Linked DNA regions of Homo sapiens. The protein of the gene in region 2 interacts with the protein of the main gene of each other region in a pairwise test. Each region holds a gene or a part of one and is shown on either strand. Other genes may lie near its edges.

Region 1 (8,083 bases), on a different chromosome or scaffold from region 2:
TCCTAGATTAAACCCTCCTAGATTAAACTCCTAGAAGAAACAGAAACTCTGAAAAGAACGAGAGCAAGCAGGGAGATTGAAATGGTAATATAGGCCGGGTGCAGTGGCTCATGCCTGTAATGCCAGCGCTTTGGCAGGCCAAGGCGGGCAGATCATTTGAGCTCAGGAGTTCGAGACCAGCCTGGCCAACAACACAAAAATACACTAAAAAATACAAAAATTACCTGGGTGTGGTGGTAGGCACCTGTAAACCCAGCTCTCAGGAGGCTGAGGTAGAAGAATTGCTTGAACCAGGGAGGCAGAGGTTGCAGTGAGCCGAAACTGCACCACTGCACTCCAGCCTGGGGAACAGAGTGAGACACTGTTTAAAAAACAAAACAAAACAAAACAGTAATATGAAAATTGCCAACAAAAAAGTCCAGGACCAGACAGATTCACAGCTAAATTCTATCAAACATTCAAAGAAGAATTGGTACCAATTTTACTGACACTATTCTAAAAGATAGAGAAAGAGGGAATCCTACCTTCAATCATTCTGTGAAGCCAGTATCACCCTAATATCAAAACCAGGAAAGGATATAAGAGAAAAAGAAAACTACAGACCAATATCCCTGATGAACATAGATGCAAAAACCCTGGACAAAATACTAGCTAACTGAATCCAACAGCATATCACAAAGATAATCCACCATGATCAAGTGGGTTTCAAATGAGGGATGCAGGGATGGTTTAACATATGCAAGTCAATAAATGCAATACACCTCATAAACAGAATTAAAAACAAAAATCACATGATCATCTCAATAGACACAGAAAAATTATGTGACAAAATCCAGCATCCTTTTATGATTAAAACCCTCAGCAAAATTGGCATGGAAAGGACATACCTTAAGGTAATAAAAGCCATCTACGACAAACCCACAGCCAACATTATATTGAATGGGGAAAGCATTCTCCCTGAGAACTGGAAGAAGACAAGGATGCCCACTCTCAGCACTTCTATTCAACATAGTACTGAAAGTCCTAGCCAGAGCAATCAGACAAGAGAAAGAAATAAAGGGCATCCAAATCAGTAAAAAAGAAGTCAAACTATCTCTGTTGACTGATGACATGATCATATACCTAGAAAACTCTAAAGATTCATCCAAAAAGCTCCTAGAACTGACAAATGAATTCAGTAAAGTTTCAGGATACAAAATCAATGTACAAAAATCAGTGGCACTGCTATACACCAACAGTGACCAAGCTGAAAATCAAATAAAGACTCAACCTCTTTTACAATAGTGCAAAAAAAAAAAAAAGAAAAGAAAAAGAAATACTTAGGAATATACCTACCCAAGGATGTGAAAAACCTCTACAAGGAAAACTACAAAACGCAGCTGAAAAAAATCACAGATGACACAAACAAATGGAAACACATCCCATGCTCATGGATGGGTAGAATCAATATTGTGAAAATGACCATACTCCCAAAATCAATCTTCAAATTCAATGAAATTCCCATCAAAATACCACCATAATTCTTCACTGAATTAGAAAAAAATTCTTAGAATTCATATGGAACCAAAAAAAGAGCCTGCATAGCTAAAGCATGACTAAGCAAAAAGAACAAATCTGGAGGCATCAAATTACCAAATACCCTATACTATAATGCTATAGTCACCAAAACAGCATGGTACTGGTATAAAAATAGGCACAGAAACCAATGGAACACAATAGAGAACCCAGAAATAAACCCAAATACTTACAGCCAACTGATCTTTGACAAAGCAAACAAAAACATAAAGTCTGGAAAGAACACCCTGTTCAACAAATGGTGTTGGAATAATTGGCAAGAATAATTGGAGAAGAATGAAGCTGGATCCTTATCTCTCACTTTATACAAAAATCAACTAAAGATGGATCAAAGACTTAAATCTAAGACCTGAAACCATAAAGATTCTAGAAGATAACGTTGGAAAAACCCTTCTAGACATTGGCATAGGCAAAGACTTCATGACCAAGAACCCAAAAGCAAATGCAACAAAAACAAGGATACATAGATGGGACCTAATTAAACTAAAGAGCTTCTACACAGCAAAATAAATAATCAGTAAACACATAACCCACAGAGTGGGAGAAAATCTTCACAAACTATGCATCTGACAAAGGACTAATATCCAGGATTGATAAGGAGATCAAACAAATCAGGAAGAAAAAAACAAACAATCCCATCAAAAAGTGGGCTAAGGACATGAATGACAATTCTCAAAAGAAGATATACAAATGGCCAACAAACACATGAAAAAATGCTCAACGTCACTAATGATCAGGGAAATGCAAATCAAAACCACAATGCAATACCACCTTACTCCTGCAAGACTGGCCATAATCAAAAAAATAATAGATGTTGGTATGGTTGTGGTGAAAAGGTAACACTTTTACCCTGCTGGTGGGAATGTAAACTAGTATAACCACTAAGGAAAACAATGTGGAGATTCCTTAAAGAACTCAAGGTAGATCTACCATTTGATCCAGCAATCTAACTACTAGGTATTTACCCAGAGGAAAAGAAGTCATTATATGAAAAAGATACTTGCACATGCATGTTTATAGCAGCACAATTTGCAATTGCAAAAATATAGAACCAGCCCAAATGCCTATCAATCAATGAGTGGATAAAGAAAATGTGGCATATATATACGTATATATATATATATATATATATATACGTATATATATACATATATAAATATATATACGTATATATATATGTATATATATATGAATACTACACAGCCATAGAAAGAAACAAAATAATGGCATTTGCAGCAACCTGGATGGAATTAAAGACCATTATTCTAAGTGAAGTAACTCAGGAATGGAAAACGAAACATCATTTTGTTATTGCTCCTACTTACGTTCTCACTCATAAGTAGGAGCTAAGCTATTAGGCTTCAAAGGCATAAGAATGATGTTGGGGGACTCAGGGGAAAGGGTTGGGGGTGGTGAAGGATAAAATACTACAAATTGGGTACAGTGTAAACTGTTCAGGTGATGGGTGCATCAAAATCTCAGAAATCACCAGTAAAGAACTTATTTATGTAACCAACCACCACCACCTGTTCCCCTGCCAAAAGAAGAAGGGACAAAGCAGAGAATGCTTTGGTTGGCACTGGATGACCCCAAGCCTAGAGGAGAATACTTGGGAAGTACCAAGAACAACAATTTTCTTATTTACTGAATGTGATTCTGATGCAGATTCCAGCAGTACAAAGACAGCTGCAAAATGTAAGTATAGGTTGCCTTTAAATAGAAAGCATGACCAGTTGTCATATACTTAGCGAAGCAAAAGGCAGCAGCCTCTGAGAAGGAAAGACCCCATCACTGCATGACCCGCAGTCATGCAAACACAGCTCAGACAGTCGGAGGTGGGCTGATGCTAAGCACTTAGAAGCCCCTAGGCACCCTCTAGAGCAGATGAATGAGTGCTAACCTCATTTATATTAGAATGAAGCCAGAGAAAACACCATCAATACCTTTGCTATTTCCAGACTATTTCTGGCTTCCTCTGCATTTAGTGTTTGTAGATTAGCTTTCTTTATTGGTTTACATCTGTATTCTAACTTGTATTAGAATAAGACCTCCCTCCTTAAAGCTGGAGTTTGAAGTGGGGAATATGTATGTCTTACAATTGCCTCTGAATGGGAGAGACTGGGAGCCTTGAATTCTGTCCCTTACCAAGCATGGGGAAAGAGGAACATAGAACAGTAGATGCTGGCAGAGAAAGAAGTTAAAGGACTAACTCCCTATATAATCCCAAATATGATGTGGCACGGTGGGGGAATGAGGAGTTGGCTGAGGACTAAGAAATGACCCTGGGAGTTTAAGTGGCAAAAGATCTTGGGGTGGTATATCTCAAGGAAATGAAATGGAAGTTCTCAGGCAGTGACCTTACCTCAATCATGTATGCTAGGTAGACGAGGGAATAGAGTGGGGAAAAGATATCGGCCAACTGTCATGGAGGAAGTGATAGAAACAGGCTGAATATTTGGAGGTGGGAGAAAAAACCTAAAATGGGAGATAAAAGAACGTCTCAAGTACTGATGAATAAGAAATACATATTTTGGGCCGGGCGCGGTGGCTCACGCCTGTAATCCCAGCACTTTGGGAGGCCGAGGCGGGCGGATCACGAGGTCAGGAGATCGAGACCATCCCGGCTAAAACGGTGAAACCCCGTCTCTACTAAAAATACAAAAAATTAGCCGGGCGTAGTGGCGGGCGCCTGTAGTCCCAGCTACTTGGGAGGCTGAGGCAGGAGAATGGCGTGAACCCAGGAGGCGGAGCTTGCAGTGAGCCGAGATCCCGCCACTGCACTCCAGCCTGGGCGACAGAGCGAGACTCCGTCTCAAAAAAAAAAAAAAAGAAATACATATTTTGTAAAGAAATTGGTAATGACCAATTTTGATGAATGCTGTATAACCTTCCTAAAGGTTGCAAGAAATAGACAAAAAAGAAAAAAACATTATTCAGTTAAGAAAAAAAATTAATGCTTGTTAAACCATCAATCATATTTGTCAATGTGAAAGTTACCTAAAAATAAATTCTAGGTTACTGTTTGATAAATGATTATGATAAGATTACCAGTGATAAATCACTGGAGTCATCTCCATAGCTCTCACTGAGGTTACTAAATTGTTGAACCCTTCACGATTTCCTGTATCTTTAACCCAGGATTCTTCTGAGTCAAAGAAACACAGGGTAAGAGAAAATAGTGGGGGAAGAGGGTAGTACATGGCTAAAGGCATAGAGGTCCGTAAGTGACCACTATTATATTGCACTGGTAATACATTATTATTATGCCACCGCAGAACCAAAGTGCACTCTAAGTGTGGTAACATACTTATGGGATTATTGAATCTACGCATCAAGTGCGAATTACTAAGAGGAAATATGAATGGAATCTTCACATATATTAATAATAGAAAACTACCATTCTAATCATTCTAATCTCTATATGTGTTACCATTTATACAAGTCATGGACAATATTAGTTGAAAAAAAATTAATCTTCACCTGGCACTGTCTTTGGTACATTTTCAGTTCTTGCAAGAGCTTCTGATTTTCATCTTGTAATTTATTCCTGCTTAGTGCTATCTCATTTACAGCTGATTTCAGTTTTTCAATAATGAACTCATCTCTTTCATTGATTTCACAATTGGGATCTGGGTCACATATCAAACGAGGAATTTCAGAGCTGCTGTCTTCTAAGCACTGTTTTTTACCATTTAGTTGAGTTTGGTAACTTTGTGCCTGTTTCTGAAAAATATAAAAACTGTGTAACTCAAATGAAGAATGTCATATTTAAGCTTACATGAAGTTCAAGAATGATAGAAAAGAATTAGTAGGAATATCTTTAAATATGTTACTACATAATGAAAGTTGGGTCTTTGTAATTCAGTCTTATATTTGTTTTAAAATTTCAATTTCAGATGGCATATAGAGAAAATATATTTGTATAACCTCAGAGCAAAGATGTAGAGTAGAGAAGGAGGTTAGTGGTAGTAAAGCCATACTAAGCAAGAAAAAAAATCTAGAAGGTGTAAAAAATTCAATTATACAATGGTTGAAAAAAGTCTATAACCAAAAATAAATAAAAACAAACAATTTGATTGTAGGGGAAAAGTTGTCAATGCATGTAACAGAGTTAATAATTCCTAGTGTACAAACACTTCTACACATCAATAAGAAAAGGGCAAACAATGCAAAAGAAAAATGGGCAAAGTTTATGAATAGGCAATTCACAGAAAGACCTGAGATAGGCTAAAAAGTATATGAGGAGATGTTCAGTCTTACAAGTAGCCAGGGAAATACAAAGTAAAGCAAGCAATCGTAAATTCTTTGAGTGCCTTGCCTGTAGGCATGCAAAAACATATGCTATTTAATGACACAATAACAATGGAATTTTAAATAGCTCCATCCTTTGAGACATGTAGACTAAACTCACCATTAACAGATATTCTATGCACTTGTGACTGTACCCACCTTTGGACCTACTCTCGTTTTTTCTTAGTTGGCATGTCTGTTTGTAAATAGATTACTGGTGAATGGTAAAGATACCAATATTTAACTTCTGCTTTTGATTTAGAGAATAGTATTAGATAACTTACCTGAAACTGATTACACTTCTCAGATAATAATTTTTGTTGAGCATCTAAAGAAATCAGATGAGTCTGATATAATATCTCTTGCTTGTCCCATTCTCTTGACTTTGCTCTAAATTCCTTTTAAAAAGTGGGGAGACAAACATATTTAAAAATGTTATTCATTTTAAAGTACAGCAAATAAGGCTTCTTTCATTTGTACATCTTCATTCTGAGAAAAAAAAAGTAAATCCATTCTTTTTTTTTTTTTTTTTTTTTTTTTTGAGACGGAGTCTCGCCGTCGCCCAGGCTGGAGTGCAGTGGCGCAATCTCGGCTCACTGCAGGCTCCGCCCCCTGGGGTTCACGCCATTCTCCTGCCTCAGCCTCCCGAGAAGCTGGGACTACAGGCGCCCGCCACCTCGCCCGGCTAATTTTTTGTATTTTTAGTAGAGACGGGGTTTCACCGTGTTAGCCAGGATGGTCTCGATCTCCTGACCTCGTGATCCGCCCGCCTCGGCCTCCCAAAGTGCTGGGATTACAGGCGTGAGCCACCGCGCCCGGCCGTAAATCCATTCTTTACCTATTAGGGAAAACAAACAAAAGAAAAGGTGTCAAATCATTCATGTTGGATTTTTTACCATCTCTAATTTTTGCTAGGAAAATACAGAATTTGTCACTTATTGTTAAAAATGTAAAAAGTCTGTCTTATAACAAATACTTATTACTAATAAGGGAATTTCAAACAACTTTTTTTTTTTTTTGCATTTGCCACTACTTTCTTTCTATTTCTTGACACGAAATATTTTTTCCTTCATTCACTCAGTTGCCAAATTTCTCCTCTTGTTTTTTTAGAGGGTGGGGCTTGGACTTATTTAGTGACTATTAAGGACTGAATGTTTGTGTCCCCCACAACAAATACATATGTCAAGCCTAAACCCCAAAGTGACAGCATTATGAAATGGGGCCTTTGGGAGGTAATTAAGTCATGAGAGTGAAGCTCTCATGAATGGGATGAGTGCTCTTATAAGAAGAGCTATGAGAGATTTTGTTTCCTCTCTCTTTCTTTCTCCCTGCCATCTGAGGATACAAAGAGCAGACAGCTATCTGTGAACCAGGAGAAGGGCCCTCACCAGAATCTGACTATGCTGGGGGATATGGTTTGGCTCTGTGTCCCCATCCAAATCTCACATTGAATTGTGATCCCGAGTGTGTGTGTGTGTTGGGGGGTGGCTGGTGGGCACGGGGGTGGTTTCTTTTTTTTCTTTTTTCTTTTTTTTGAGATGGAGTCTCGCTCTGTTGCTCAGGCTGGAGTGCAGTGGCACGATCTTGGCTCACTGCAACCTCTACCTCCCAGGTTCAAGTGATCCTCCTGTCTCAGCCTCCTGAGTAGCTGGGATTACAGTCACGTGCCACTACACCCGGATAATTTTTTGTATTTTTAGTAGAGACAGCATTTCACCATGTTGGTCAGGCTGGTCTCAAACTCCTGACCTCGTGATCTGCCTGCCTCAGCCTCCCAAAGTGCTGGGATTACAGGCGTGAGCCACTGCGCCCAGCCTGGTGGTTTCTAGCAGTTTAGCACCATCTCCCTAGTGCTGTCTCTTGATAGAGTTCTCATGAGATCTGGTTGTTTGAAAGTGTGTAGCACTTCCCCCTTTTCTCTCTCTTTCTCTCCTGTTGGCCACGTGAAGACATGCCTTGCTTCCCCTTTGCCTTCTGCCATGATTCTAAGTTTCCCAAGGCCTCCCCAACCATGCCTCCTGTACAACCTGTGGAACTGTGAGTCAATTAAACCGCTTTTCTTCATAAATTACCCAGTCTCAGGTAGTTCATTATAGCAGTGTGAGAATGGATTAATACACAGGCACTCTGATTTTGGACTACCAGCCTCCAGAACTGTGAAAAATAAATGTCTGTTGTTTATGCCACCCAGTCTATGGTATTTAGTTATAGCAGCCTG
Region 2 (8,083 bases):
CTCAATTGCTGGACTGACAACAAGAATTTTAAATAACATTTGTCTTACTCACAAAATGTTATAAAGCTTAAGATGGAAAAATACAAAATGTTTTGACATTACCTAAAGAATCATGAACTCTTGTTAGGTATATGATGGTGGCCCTGAACTTGAGCCAACATCTGTAATCACTTTTATCAGTCAAAAAGCCATGTTCTTTTATATAGCCTGTAGACTATTAAAATACAAAAATGTGGTAATGGATAAACAACTATACACAAAGCCCTCACACTTCAAATACTGTCCTGGATTGATGAGAGAGGAGCAGAATTCAAACATTTATCTGCAATCCTAATGGTTAAAATTTTACCAGGAACAGACCTGCCACTCTCTTGAAATACTGTCTCTGAGATTAACATACGAACAGCATCATCTCTGTTGGAAGGCTACATTCCCTTATGATGCTGATTTGTGTGTGTGTGTGTGTGTGTATGGTTTTTTGTTTTTGTTTTTTTGTGTTTTTTTGAGAGAGAGTCCTGCTCTGTCGCCCAGGCTGGAGTGCAGTGGTGCAATCTCGGCTCACTGCAACCTCCGCCTCCCAGGTTCAAGCAGTTCTCCTGCCTCAGCCTCCTGAGTAGCTGGGATTACAGGCGCGTGCCACCACACCCGGCTAACTTTTGTATTTTTAGTAGAGACGGGGTTTCACCATGTTGGCCAGGATGGTCTCGACTGCCTGACCTCGTGATCCATCCGCCTCAGCCTCCCAAAGTGCTGGGATTACAGGTGTGAGCCACCATGCCCGGCCTGTGTATCTTCTTTATGTTTACCCTACCAAGAGCAGACCTGAGCATTTTGCTGGCCGTAGAGGTATATAAAAGAACTCTAAGCTTAGGCATGCAGAATAGGCACTGGATGAATGTAGTGAGGCTATTAGGAGTCTTGTTGGCTCCCTGATGTCCTTATCATGTCTTCTTCGCAGACTGTGGATGCACACAAGACAGCTAAAACCTTGGGCATCATTTGAAAATGTTTGGCTGCCTGCTACAATCTCAGGAGAGAGAATCCTTCATACTTATATTGGACTGGATATATTGTCAATCAAATTCTTTTTTAAAAAAAGATGCTTCACTTTAGGAAATAAGACACCAGACCAGCAACATCAAGTAGGTATGGAATACTTGCTGGTGAAACACTTAAAACTAGGAAACTTCTAAATCTTCTAAAGGTGCTTAAGAGAATGGAGAAGTTAATCAACAGGAATCCAAGTGTTGTGGCTGTAAAGCAATACGACATAAGATCCCTAGTAAAGAGCAGGCCTAAGAGTTGGTTTTGGAAAGAACTTGGGCCAAGAACAGCAGAAAAAGCTAAATGAGCTACTTACGTCGATGTGTTTTAATACTGGTGCATTAGCAGTATCTTATGGAAGTTGTGAACACTAAGAACCAATTTCAAAAAATATAAAAATGTTTATAGGGCATATTAAAATAAAAACAGCTTAAATGAGTTCTATAAATAAAATAGGCCCAGCACAGTGACACACGCCTGTAACCCCAGCACTTTGGGAGGACAGGTGGGAGGATCGCTTGAGGCCAGGAGTTCAAGACCAGCCTGGGCAACAAAGCAAGACCCCATCTCTGTTCTTTTTAATATCAAAATTATAATAAAAAAGTAAAAATAAACGTACCTACTTAGAATACATATTAAATAAAGGAACTCCATGAGAAAATGTCACTGCATTTACCAAGTCAACCCTAGATTTTTGTGCAATGAAAAAGATTGGGACTATGTATTAACAATTTCATAAACAAATAATCAACAATTTTCTCTCCATTATTTCGATGTTGGGTAAAGCCTGAAATGTGGTGTCGAGTTTTTCCATTTGCGTTACATCAAATTCTTGTCTACTATGGATATTCTGATATGACAAAGACTAGTTAAACTCCTATTGAAAGATCTGCCATTTACTACACCCAAATAAGTTCTCTTAGGTATAAATTCTTTGATGTTGAATGAGCGTTGGGTTATGACTGAATCTCCTCACACACATACATGCTTATTACATTTATAATCTTTTTGCATGGCGTGAATTTGATACTAAACAAGGTAGTTTCTTTGACTGATGGCTTTTTCACATTCATTGCAGCAATGGAATTTTATTCCCATGTGAATTCTCCAAATGTGACTAAGGTATGAAAATACTAATAGCATGAAAAATTTGCCACATTCAATACATTTGTAAGATTTCTCACTGGTATAGATTTGCAGGAGTCGATTAAGAGTTTAACACTAATACCTTTTCTTCATTCGTCACATTCAGAGGGTTTCTCTCTGGTGTGAATTATCTGATGCTGAGCAATGGCTGAGCTATGACTGAAGGCTTTACCACATGCAGTACATACATGATTTCTCCCTGGTGTGAACTCTCAGATGCTGAATGAAGCCTGAATTTGATAAATATCTTCCCATCTTCATTACATTCATGAGTTCTCTTTGGTATGAATGCTCTGATGTTGAACTAGATGTGCTCTCTGACTGGAGTTCTTTTCCCATACATCACAATCAAAGGCTTTCTGTCTGGTGAGGACTTCTTGTTGCAGGATAAGATCTGAGCTATGACTGAAACTGCCCTCATACTCATTACATTCATACGATTTCTCTTTCCTATGCATTTTGTGATGCTGAATAAGGCATGAGGTTTGACTGAAAGCTTTTCCACATTCATTACATTCATGTGCTTTCTCTCCTGTGTGAATTCTTTGATGCTGAATAAGATGTGAATTCAATCTGAAGTCTTTTCCACATTCACTACACGTATAGGGCTTTTCTCTGAAATGAATTCCTTGTTGTTTAATATAGGCCAACCCATATTCATCATACTCATAGGCTTTCTCTTCATGATGGACCCTCTGATGTTCAAGTAGGTATGAAGTATGGCAGAAGTCACTGCCACATACAGTACACTTACAGGGCATCTCTTTGTGAATTTTCTGATGTTGAGTAAGGTGGACACTACGACTGAAGACTCTTTCACAACTGCTACATTTGTAAGATTTGGCTCTGGTGTGAATTTTCTTATGCTGAATTATGCCTGAGCTTGGACTACAGGATTTATCAGACGCTTCACAGGATTTATCAGATGCTTCACATTTGTAAGGTTTTTCTCTAGTGTGTATTCTTTTATGTCGACTAAGACTTGAGCTCTGACTGAAAGACTTTTCACATTCTTTACATTTGTAGGGCTTCTCTCTAGTATGGATTCTCTGATGTCTAGTAAGGGCTGAGCTCTGATGGAAAATTTTCCCACATACATCACATTTATAGGATTTCTCAGTGTTAGGGATGCTCTCCCATTTATTAAGGTGGGAGAGATCCATTAAGCTTTCCTTACATTCACTACTCTGAAAATCCTCTGTTAGATTTAAGTGTTCATGTTTACCAGAGGCTGAATTCTGGTTGAAGCTCATGTCATACTTATCATTGTCATCGGTATTCTGTATTCTAAGAACTCTCTGATCTGCATCAATAGTAGAGTCCAGACTGAAGCTTTTTTCGGGTTCATGACATTCATTGTTCTTCTCACTGGTGAAGGTTTCCTTGCTGATTGTTATTTGCCTAAACTCTCTCTCCAGGTACAGAAATTTCCTTAGAATTTCCTGAAGTCTTTCTAATCTGTCCTCAGACTTATACACTTCTCTAGTCTCAGGAACTTGGGTAATATCGTGTTTGAGTCTTCCTACTCTCACTTTGTATGAATGCACTTCTTCCGAAATTTTCTGCTTAGGAATCAACAGCTTGTTCTCTTCTCTGGTCTCTCCATCTGATACAATATATAAATAGAAAATGCAAATGTAATCTGTACCCTGTGCTTAGGAAAAGAAAACTCAGATGAGAAAACTAAACAATGTAGTATCTACAAGGACAAGAAAAGTTTATTTACTCTGAAAAACAGGCACAAAATCTCAACAGCAGAAGTTAAGGGCATAAACAGGAGCAGTGAGGTAAAACAGCGGACATGTTCAGCAGAGTAAGGAAATAATAGGGAAACAGCTGAAAGAATTTTAGATAAGCAACTTGATTGGGGTCTAGTACGACATGTGCACGGATACTAAACAAATGGAAAGGGTCAACCTAACTGAAGGGAAAAGGAAGGAACTCTCCATGCTAGGACACACACAGAGCTCTTCATTCTGAGTGCCAAAGCAGCTACAACTTGGCTCAACAATTGAACTTTACTTCCCTACTAATTCTATCTGATTCTGCCTTACTCACCTGAGCAGTCATCTCTTAAGACTTCTCTAGTCTTAGTTTCCAGATCAAAGACCTGTAGATCCTGTTCCAGCTGGGAGATCCCATCAGGCTTGGAAATTGGAAATCCTGCTCATAGAGAAGGAAATGGGATGTGGCAATGTATCCCCAGGTCCTACATCTGCCACTTTTTCTTTTAACTAATGATTAAGAGAGACAGAAGGTCGATTCTGAGAAGACATTAATTAGGAAGGTCTGGAGAGTGAAGAGGGCAAAGATCTACAAGGAGCTCAGATTTGTGCTCTAGAGGGATGTGTGTTAAGGGGCAAGTTGATGACTTGGGAGCAGAAGGATTCATTTAAATATTATTCAGACAACAGAATGTGTGCATGGGTTTGTCTTCACAGAAGTTATCATTATCACTCTCCATCTGTTACCTAAAGATTAATCTTCGGATTAGATCTGGTCTACAAGTATCAAAATGGAGGTCATCAAAATGTAATTCTGCTGGACTGGAGAAAGGTGAAACTCAAGCACCTGCTGCATGGTTAGCTAACCTGTAGCAAGAGAATCAGTGAAAACTGAATAAATATTCTAAGGACCAATCTCAAGAAACAATTTGTTTCAGTACACATAAGAAAACAAAGAGTAATATGACACATTCTTACCCATTAGGAGTGTAGCATTTATTCAACAAACATTTATGAAGTGCCTCCTCTATGCAAAGTATGCAGGGGATAAGAGGCCAAGAAGGTCCCTTCCCTCAAGGACCTCACACTCTACACAGAGACAGCTCTAAACAACTAACTACAATAAAATATAGAGAGGGAAGTGCAATCAGTGCATCTTCACATAAAACAGTCTTTCTATGGCTTGCATAATGCAATGCTTGGATATAAATCTCTTTTAAAGCTAAAGCAACAGGCAGTCTGCTTCCAAGGAGACAGAATTTTAATACTATTAGTATCAAAGGGCAGTTTTTAAATGTGTCCAGCCCAGAAAGCTTCTAATAGCACACATACAAGGTCTGGCTCAAGCCCCTCATCTCCAAAAACCTTTCTCTCCATTTACTGAATGTGTACAAAATTTATTAGTTGTTCCCTCTTATCCTGACATGTCACATATAACGGTGTTTACATAGATTTTTTTTTAAGTGGTTTCAGGTATTGTCATTCATACTTGATTTATAAACTCTTTGATAGAAGGGACCAGGTATCTTGTATCTTGCAATTCTTTTGATTAATTTACTTAACGGCTACTTATTGAGTGCCAACTCTGTGCGCCCAAGTATCAATGTATTAACAGCTACCCAATTTTATAAAAAGGGCATTGGGGCTGGAAAATATGAAGAACTGACAGCTGCCCCAAAGATTCCATGTGAGAGCCTATGAGCAAGGAGATCAGAATAGATAGAAGAAAGGTATTTACTGTGTTTCTGAAATCCTGTGGGACATTTAGAGTCAACTCTCCTTGTGGACATATATTTAATTAAGGTCCACCCTGTCAAATGAAATCGTTTCAGAAGTTTAAAAAGTAAAGTTAGTGTAACATGAAGCAGCAATCAATATTGTTCTCAGAATTCCAATAACATAATTTGCAACTTTTAACTCTGAGATATTTAAAGTGTCTGTCGATATTTGGTAACTGAAATAAATTCTGGCTGCTTACTCCATATCTACACTTAAAACACATATGCACAACAAAAAAGGTGGTCTTCATGTGGGATGAGGGGTTTGATTTTAGATGTGTGTTTAATGTAATGTACGAAGGTATAAGAGAAAATGCCCAGCAGATGAGTACGCAAAGGCATACAGAGTGATAAAATGGACTTCAGAGACTAAGAAGGGAAAGGGTGGGAGAAGGGACAAGGGATAAAAAACTATATATTAGGTACAATGTACACTATTCCAGTGACAGGTGCACTAAAATCTCAGAATTCACCACTATGTATTAGAATTCATCCATGTAACAAAAAACCACTTGTACGCCCCCAAAACTACTGAAATAATTTTTTTTAAAAGAGAAAATGCCTAGCAGGTAAAGATACAATATCACAGTTTAGAAGAGAGAACAGGGTATCATCAGTACCATCAAAATATTATTAAGTTTTACTAAGTACTTGGTAGGTGCAAAGTACCATGCCAAGAGCTCTCTAGGTTTTCACTCATTTAATACCATAAATTTAAAACGTAGAAACTATTATTATAGCCATTTTACAGATGGGAATACTAAGATTCAGAGTGGTTAAGTAGCTTGCCCAAGGTTACAATAACTGGTAATGCTTAGTTTTCAAACCTGCACAGTCTTATTTCAGAACCTAGCCTTTAAACAATCTGCTAGTAAAAAAAAAATTATGATTTTGCCTCCTAACAAGCCCTGAAAAAAAATAAATAATGACTGTGAACAAAATCCATCCCTTCCTCCAAATTACACACAGAAAGAACGTGTAAGTTTTCTTGGCACTAGCCTAAATGCCTATTTCCTAAATTTAACTCAAAACTTTGCTTTCAAAATATGCACTTGCTTTATTTACATTTTTCCTGTTTAAAATTAATGTATTAAAACTTTTTGATTTTATTTAAATCTTGAGTTTTCTAATATGATTTATAAAATATTGACAGTGAAGTAAAAGGTAAATACAAACAACAGAGAAAAAGTGATTAGAATAACATACGGTGAACCAGGATCCTAAATAATTGGAGTCGCAGAAGTGTTAATTAAAAGGGATCTATGGCTGGGCACAGAAGCTCACACCTGTAATCCCAGCACTTTGGGAGGCCATGACGGACAGATCACTTCAGCCCAAGAGTCTGAGACCAGCCTGGGCAACATAGTGAGATCCCACCTCTACAAAAAATACAAAAATTAGCCAGGCATGGTGGCACACGCCTGTAGTCCCAGCTACTTGGGAGGCAGAGGCAGAATGATCGCTTGAGCTCAGAAGGCCGAGGCTGCAGAGAGCCAAGATCACACCACTGTACTCCAGCCTGGGTGAGAGTGAGATCCTGTCAGTCAGTCAGTCAGTCAATCAACCAACAAACGAATCAAGAGGATCTATGGACCAGGCATGGTGGCTCACACGTGTAATCCCAGCACTTTGAGAGGTCAAGGCAGGAGGATCTCATGAGCTCAGGAATTTGAGACCTGCTTGGGGAACATAGTGAGACTCCATCTCTACAAAAAATTAAAATTAAAAATTAAAAGGGATCTAAAAGATGATTTATTATCAAGGAAATGGAAATCCTTTACAATAAAAATCCAAACCCCAGCCAGGCACGGTGGCTCGCGCCTGTAATCCTAGCACTTTGGGAGGCCAAGGCAGGCAGATCACAAGGTCAGGAGATCGAGACCATCCTGGCTAACACGGTGAAACCCTGTCTCTACTAAAAATACCAAAAATTAGCCGGGCGTGATGGCGGGTGCCTGTAGTCCCAGCCACTCGAGAGACTGAGGAAGGAGAATCGCTTGAACCCGGGAGGCAGAGGTTGCAGTGAGCCGAGATCACGCCACTACACTCCAGCCTGGGAGACTCCATTTCAAAAAAAAAAAAAAAAATCCAAATCCCTAGACAATAGTCCAAACAATAATAAATTTGAGGAAACTCCACTATAAATAAATAATTTGAACACACTCCTGAAATTTTTATTTGTATTAAAAAATCTGGTCTATGGCTCATATCGCTTGCTATTCTTTCCAAAATATTAAAGTAACTAGCACAAGGCAGGTACTTAATTTTTTTTTTTTTTTTTTGGCCGGGGGGTATGGAGTCTCGCTCTGTCGCCCAGGCTGGAGTGCAATGGCATGATCTTGGCTCACTGCAACCTCCACCTCCCGGGTTCAAGCGATTCTCCAGCCTCAG
Region 3 (8,083 bases), on a different chromosome or scaffold from region 2:
GAAAACAGCTCTCTCTCTAGTGAGAGAGAGGAGATTCCTGAGAGGAAAGACGGGCCGGTGGTGGAGGCGACAGATTTTATAGTCAGGCTTGAGGAGGCGTCTGATTTACATAGGGCTCACAGATTGGTTCACTCAGGTATGATGTTTACATAGCATGCAGGGAAGGCTGGCCACCTCACTCTAATCTTCTTATGCAGATGAACTTACCCCTTGGCCATTGCCATCTTCTCTGCTTCTTACTATACACGTGGCTGGCAGAGAAGGGAAGATGGAGCTGTCATTTTGAACATGATTGGTACAATGGCCAGCATCTATGTCTGCAGCTCGATTTTATAGGCTGCCCTTTGTTAGGAGGAAAATGATTTGGAGCTGCTTTTCATTAAAGGGAAAACCTTAACAAGGACTTCCATACCCTTACTATCTGCCTAAGTAATTTCTTCTTAACTCCTGTATCAAGAACACATGATATTTTATTTTCCATTCCTGAGTTTCTTCACTTAGAATAATGGTCTCCAACTTCATCCAGGTTGCTGCGAATGCCATTATTTTGTTCCATTTTATGGCTGTTCTATTTTATCCATATACCAGATTTTCTTTATCCACTGGTTGTTTGATGTGCATTTAGCCTCATTCCACATTTTTGCAATTGCAAACTGCACTTCTATAAACATGCATGTGTAAGTGTCTTTTTAATATAACAACTTATTTCCCTCTGGGTAGATACCCAGTAGTGGGATTGCTGGATCAAATGGTAGTTCTAATTTTAGTTAAAAAGGGGAGCTTTTGAAATTAAAAACCTTAGATGGTTTGTTAAGGGCCAAGTCATGGAAGAAAACAAGATTGATGGTACTAGATATTGAAATGACAAAGGGATAGAAAGAGTAACCAAAATAACTGTGTGTAAATGAATCAAGAGGTACAGGGTTCAGAAATGGTGGCAATTGTCTTACACTATAGAAAGGTAGACCCAGGAATAATTCTCTTTTCTTTCCTATATCTCAAATTATGATACGTTATACTAAGAGATAACTTGGAAGGGGAAAATATATGTTGCATAGGCTATATATATATATATATATATATATATATATATATATTTTTTTTTTTTTTTTTTTTTTTTGCTGAGATGGAGTCTTGCTCTGTCACCCAGGCTGGAGTGCAGTGGTGCTATCTTGGCTCACTGCAAGCTCCACCTCCCAGGTTCACGCCATTCTCCTGTGCATAGGCATATTTTAATGCTTAAAAGAGAGACAAAGATTATGGGGTTGGGGTTATAAACACTGGTATATCAGCAAGGGAGGAGCTTTGTTGATAGTTAAGGCAAAACAATAACTGTGTATAGTTGATGGTCCTGGGTTTCTGTATGGCAATGTGTAAGTTCCCTTCATTATGCAAAAACAAATGGTAAACAAAGCCAATGGGTTGAACTTTTACTCATAATATAAATTTACTCCAAAATCTCAGAAAGGAGGAAGTTACAGAAAGATAATCCTCACAGTCTGAAAAAGGAAGGAAAGTACTTTCTTCCATGCTAATGGTACCTCTATTCTCTTCAGGGCAGCAAGGAAGTCAGTTTAATTTTTCACATCTCTAAATTTATTTGCAGCTAGGGGTGGCCAGTTAAACAATTTTGATCAAAGAAATTTAAGTGGAGCTTTCCAGCCTGACATATAAAGAGCTTGCAAATTGTTCCTTCCTTCCTTACAATAAGAAAAAAGCAGAACAATCTGAAAAGCAATTAATCTTGTTACATTCATCAGAGAAGTGAGGGCACAGGGCAAGCTGCTGCCCTGAAAACCAGAGAGACAGACAAGTGGATGTGGAGAATCAGAGCTTGCCAGGAACAAAATCCTTCTGCTAAGGCCAGTACCAGTGGGAACATGTCAACTTTATCTGATGAATGGCTGGAGGCTCAGTATGCATGAGCTTTAATTAAAAACTCTGGGTGTAGAGAGGACAGTCTTAGGGAAGCTCCCATAGTTTCCTAAATTTTACCTCCAGGAGCCTCACTAGATCTCACTGTAAGGATCAGAGAACAATCTTTTTTTTTGCTTCTAGTAGTGAAAGGGGAGAAGTAATCATTTAAAAATATGTCAGAGCTCTCCGTTCTCTTTACCAGAGCATGCTCTCAAGAGAAACTATTTTAGCAGAGCCTAAATAAATTGGGTTTTACCAAATTCTAAGTGACTTAGGGGAAAGGAAATACACAACTCCTGTTCCCTATAGCTTTCCTATCTCACCTAACAGGGATGATAGCAAAGAAGAAGTTGTGAAATTTACATCCCAGGGATAGGAAACTGCTCTTGCAGTGAAAAATTATGACAGTAAAGACTTCTGTTCTAACCAACTCCATCTTGCCTTTCACCTCCCAGCTGCCCTTGGTTATTCCAGGGCATGGACAAAGCTAACTATAGGAGAAATTTAGTTTATAGTTTAATAATAGCCCTTCCCCAAAATTAAACCACCTTTGTAAAACTAATGAAAGGCCACAAGGTTAGGAGGATGAGAGTGGCCTGAATTCTGCTAAGATGCAGGCATAGTCAAGTGATTACCAGCCATTATTCTGGAGGTCACAAGATTTGCAACTTCCCCTATTCACTATTGTAGAAACTAGGATTGACCTTTTCACATATCTTTTCAGGCTTTTGCATTTCTGATGACCAGGCAGCCCCACATGGACCCAAGACTCTTAGCTCAACTAGTCCTGTGGTCCCCACCCAGAAGTGGACTCACCTCATGAGGAGGCATTTTCCATACCCCTGTGATTTCATTCCCAACCAACCAGCAGCCCATTCCCATAGGCCCCTGCCCACAAAACTATCCTTGAAAAAGCTTAGCCTCCAAATTTTCAGAGAGGCTGATTGGAGTAATAATAAAGCTCCAGTGTCCTGTTTAGCTGGCTCTATGTGTATTAAACTCTTTCTCTATTGCAATTCCCCTGTCTTGATAAATTGGCTCTATCTGGGTAGTGTGCAAAATGAACCCACTGGGCAGTTATAGATACAGACTCACTTAAAGACTGAATCCTAATCATAGGCTATGGAACCCTTCTTCCCCTACAACTTACCAACACATCAATTAGTCTCCTGTATATATCAGAGGATTCCAGCTTTAAAAAATTGCAAGCTTCAGATATTATTTAAGAAAGAGTCCCTAGCAAGACCAAAAATAAGGAGGAAGACAAAACTGAATCAGGGGAAATTTTACCCTCTGATATCACAGTTACAAATAAACAGAAAATGCAGCCTAAATCTTAGTCAGATAAACATAAAACCTACACTAAAAGCTTGTCTTCCTTAGTTTCTGTTACCCAATACATCATATCCAGCTTTCAATAAAGAACTACAAGACACACTAAAGGGCAGAAACAATCTGAAGTGAAAAAGTAAGCACCAATCAGATCCAGACTCAGATAATAGCAGATATTTTAGAATTATCAGACTTGGAACTTACAATAATTATGACAAATATGCTAAGTTCTAATAGAAGAAGTGGACATGATGCAAGACAAGATGGGTAATACAAGGCAAAATGGAAAATCTAAGAAGAAATCAAACTAACACTAAAAGTCTAAAATATTTTAATGGAAATGAAGCATGACATTGATGGGCTCATTAATACACTGAACTCAGAGGAAAAAAACTAATTAGCTTAAAGATATGTAAATAGAAACTTTCCAAACTAACGGTAAGGAGAAAAAAGTATAAAAATATAGAATACATTATTCAAGAACTGAGCAACAATTACAAAAAGTATAAATATGTACAATTGGAAAAAAAAAGAAGGAAGGAGGAGAGGAAGAGGAAAAGGATGAAGAGGAAGAGGAAGAAGAAGAAAGAAGAAGGAAGAAGAAAGGAAGGAAGAGAAGGAGGAGAAACAGAATAAATATTGACATAATAATAGATGTGAACCTTCTAAAGTTAATGATAGACAACAAACCACAGATTCAGAAAATTCATAAGACACAAAGCAGGATAAACACCAGATAAATGTCTACATCTAGACTTATGAAATTTAAACTGCAAAAGAATCAGACAAAAATGAAATCTTGAAAGAAGCTGGGGGAAAGTGGTAGGATAGCTTACTTAAATAGGAACATGAATAACAACAATTACATAGGATTTCTTTACAGAAATCATGCAAGCAATAAGAGAATGGAGTAAAATATTTAAAGTGTTCAAAGAAAAAGAGCAGAAACCTAGGATTCTGTATCATGTGCAAGTATCCTTCCAAAGTGAAAGAGAACAAAAGACTTCTTCAGACAAACAAAAACAGAAGGAATATTTGTTACTAGTAGGCTTGCCCACACAGCAATAGTTAAGAAGTTTTCAGAGAAAAGGAAAATGTTGTAAGTCAGAAACTTGGACGTACTTAAAGGAAGAGCATTAGAAATGAAAAAAAAGAAGGTAAAATAAAATATTTTATCTGTCTTATTCTTAACTGATCTAAGAAATAATAATTTGTTCAAAATAATAATTGCAACAATGTATGTGTTGTTTATATTTTATGGACAAGTGAATGACAATAATGTTATGAAGAATAAGAAAAGGGGAATGGGAATACTATGTCAAAAGGTAACTGCATTACCCATAAAGTAGTATAGTGTTATTTGAAAGTGAACTTGAACAAATTATAAATGTATAGTTCAAATGCAAAGGAAACCACTGAAAAAGTTAAAAAATAAAATAAAGCAAGTATAATTGACATGCTAAGACAGGAGAGAATATTAAATAATATGAATTGCTCAAAACTAGAGAATGCAGAAGAAGAATGGAAAAGTAAATGGCATAAATGCAAGTAAAAACAAGTCCACAACTAAAAGACAGTAACAGATAAGGCACATACTAATTCGACTATATCAATAATCACTTCAGATGTCAATGATCTTAAAGACAAAGACTGTCAGAGTTAATACAAATACAATACACAACTGTATGTTGTTTACAAGAAACTCACTTTATAAGGGCAGATGGTGTCAAAGGGATGGAGAAAGATATACATTGCTAACAGTAATCAACAGAAAGCTGAAGTTGCATTATTAATTTCAGACAAACAAGACTTTAGAACAAGAAAAAGTATCAATGATAAAGAGGGACATTACATAATAATAATGGGGTAAAATTACATAGTAATCCTTAATGTGTTTGTTCCTAACAACAGAACGTCAAAATATGTGAGGCAAAAACTGATAAAAGTGCAAGAAGAAATAGACAAATCTGCTATCATAGCTGGAAATGTCAATTCTTTCTAACAGTAATTGACAGATCTAGCAGGCAGAAAATCTGTAAGAATGTATTTGAACTGAACAGCACCATCAGTCAGTTGGATTTAATTGACATTAATAGTTACTTTAATAACAGCAGAATACAGTTTTCTCAAGACACATGGAACATTCACCAAGACAGATCACATTCAATGTCATTAAAATATACTTTAACAAATTTAAAAGGATAGAAATCATACAAAGTGTGTTCTCAGACCACAGTGGAGTTAAACTGGAAACCAATAACAAGAAAGATAACTGGAAATTCCTCAAATATTTGGAAATTAAGAACATACTTACAACTAGCACATAGATCGATGAAGAGGTTTCAAAAGAAATTTAGAATATTCTGAACAAAATGAAAACGAAAATATGATTTATTAAAATTTATGGGATATAGTGAAAGTGATGCTTAGAGAAATTTTATAGCATTAAATTAATATATTAGAAAAGAAGTAGCTCTTTACTCAATAGTCTAAGATTTCACCTTAGGAAACCAGAAAAAGAAGAGCAAATTAAACCCAAAGTAAGCAGTAGAAAAGACATAAAAACTAGAGCAGAAATCTGTGAAATTGAAAACAGAATGCAATAGAGAAAATTAATGAAACCAAAATATAATTCTTTGAAAATATTAGTAAAATTGATAAACTTTTGCCAGACTAACCAAAAAAGACACAAATTACTAACATCATAAATAAGAGACCATAACTGCCAATCCCATGAACATTAAAAGAATAATAAAAGAACATAACCAATAGCTCTATGCTCATAAACTTGAAAACTTAGATAAAACTGACTAAATCTAAAAAGGATTCAATCTACTAAAATTCACACAAGACATAGATAATCTAAATAAGGTTATTATCTATTTAAAAAATTAATTAATAATTACCAATCTTTCAAAATAGAAAATACTAAACCCAGATGGTTTCACTGATTACCAAACATTTAAAAAAGAAACTACTAATTCTTTACAATATCTTGCAGAAAATAGAAGCAGAGGGAATACTTCTTGACTCATTCTGTAAGGTGAGCATTACCCTAATACCAAAACCAGAAAAAGATATTAAAAGACAGGAAAATGACAGACCAATACCTCTCATGAACATAGATGTAAAAATTCTCAACAAAATATTAGCAAATTGATCCAAACATGTGTAAAAATAATTATACACAATCTGAGACTTATCCCAAGAATGTAAGGCTGTTTCAACATCTTAAAATTATTTAATGAAATTCATCACGTCAAAAGGCTAAAGGAGAAAAATCATATGATCATATCAACAATGTATAATAAGAATTTGACAAAATCCAGTACCCATTTATGATAAAAGCTCTCAGTACTAGGTGTAGAGAGGGATGTCTTTCACTTCATAAGGAACATCTCTAAAATACCTAAACCTCACATTATAGTCACTGTCAAGAAACCAGATTTTTTTCAGTTAATATTAGGAAAAAGGCAAAAATGTACCTTCTCACTTCTGTTCAACATCATAATGGAAGACATAGCTAATGCAGTAAGACAAAAAAAGGAAATAAATGTTATACAGTTTGAGAAGAAAGAAATAAATTGTTCTGTGTCTTCGTTCACAGACGACCTGACTAAGTAGAAAATCTCAAAGAATCAACAATAACAATAAAAAACAAACAAAAAACTCTTGGAAGTAATAAACAATTATAGTAAGATTAGAGGATGTAAGTTTAATACAGAAAATTCAATTGATTTCCTTTATGCCAGCAATGAACAATTTGAATGCAAAGTGAAAAACAGCCTCCCATTTATATTAGCAACAAAAAATAAAATACTTAGGCATAAATCCAAGAAAATATGTATAAAATCTGGATGAGGAAAATTATAAAACTCAGGTAAAAAAGATGATCTAAATAAATAGGAGAAATTCTATGTTAATTTATAGGAAGACTCAATATTGTTAAGATATCAGTTATTTCCAAACTGATCCTTTGGATCCAGCACAATCCCAATAAAAATTCTAGCAAGTTACTTTGTAGATTTCAACAAACTGATTCTAAATTTTATATTGAAAGGGAAAAGTTCCAGAAAAGCCAACACAACATTGAGGGAAAAGAACAGAAGAGGACTGACACTACCTGATTTCTAGACTTATTGTAAATCTATAGTTTTCGAGACAGTATGGTATTGATGAAAAACAGGATTCAACGAGACAGAATAGCGAGCTCGGAAATAAACCCACACAAATATATAGTCAATAAATCTTTGATAAGGAAGCAAAGGCAATACAATAGAGAAAAGATAGTCTTTTCAACAAATGGTACTAGAACTTGACATCTACATGAAAATGATAATGATAATAATCTGGACACTGACACCTTTCAGTAACATTAACTCGCTATGGATCATAAACCTAAATGTAACATACACAACTGCAAAACTTCTAGGAGATAATACATAAGAGAACTAATGTGACCTTAAATTTGGCAATAAATTTTCAGATATATAGCCAAAAGATTTAAGTGATTAACCTTATGTAGTCATCTAACATATGGCAAAACAAGAAGTGGAGTCCAGAACAACCTGGTTTCAAAGATAATCCTCTTTTCATTAAACCATATCACCTCCAGGAGATGACAGCAGAGGATATTTAAATAATAGATGAGATAAGACTTTTAAGACTGAAATTAGAAATTTCTCAAAGAGAAAGGGAAAAAGAAAATTTATAGTGAATATTACATGAATTAAAATGATGATATCAGTTGCATTTAATGATCTGTTAATTTCAGTGAAACCTCTATACTTACTAGGAGTCCTGGTTCTGGAATAGGAGAAGGCCTTGAAAACCT

The links. The genes of interacting proteins can lie anywhere in the genome.
Region 1: the proteins of ZNF655 (region 2) and DEUP1 interact in binary tests that used the Homo sapiens proteins (3 or more experiments, as listed by UniProt).
Region 3: the proteins of ZNF655 (region 2) and CCDC179 interact in binary tests that used the Homo sapiens proteins (3 or more experiments, as listed by UniProt).

Annotation. Positions count from the first base shown.
Region 1 is NC_000011.10:93,368,253-93,376,335, reverse strand, and holds part of DEUP1 (deuterosome assembly protein 1), read right to left. Parts: intron 6,264-8,083; coding exon 6,150-6,263; intron 5,299-6,149; coding exon 5,056-5,298; intron 1-5,055. UniProt on the Homo sapiens protein: Key structural component of the deuterosome, a structure that promotes de novo centriole amplification in multiciliated cells.
Region 2 is NC_000007.14:99,567,958-99,576,040, reverse strand, and holds part of ZNF655 (zinc finger protein 655), read right to left. Parts: intron 4,354-8,083; coding exon of another isoform or gene 4,249-4,353; intron 3,797-4,248; coding exon 2,457-3,796; 3' UTR 1-2,456. UniProt on the Homo sapiens protein: Probable transcription factor.
Region 3 is NC_000011.10:22,849,881-22,857,963, forward strand, and holds part of CCDC179 (coiled-coil domain-containing protein 179), read right to left. Parts: coding exon 8,042-8,083; intron 6,773-8,041; coding exon of another isoform or gene 6,755-6,772; exon of another isoform or gene 6,735-6,754; intron 1-6,734.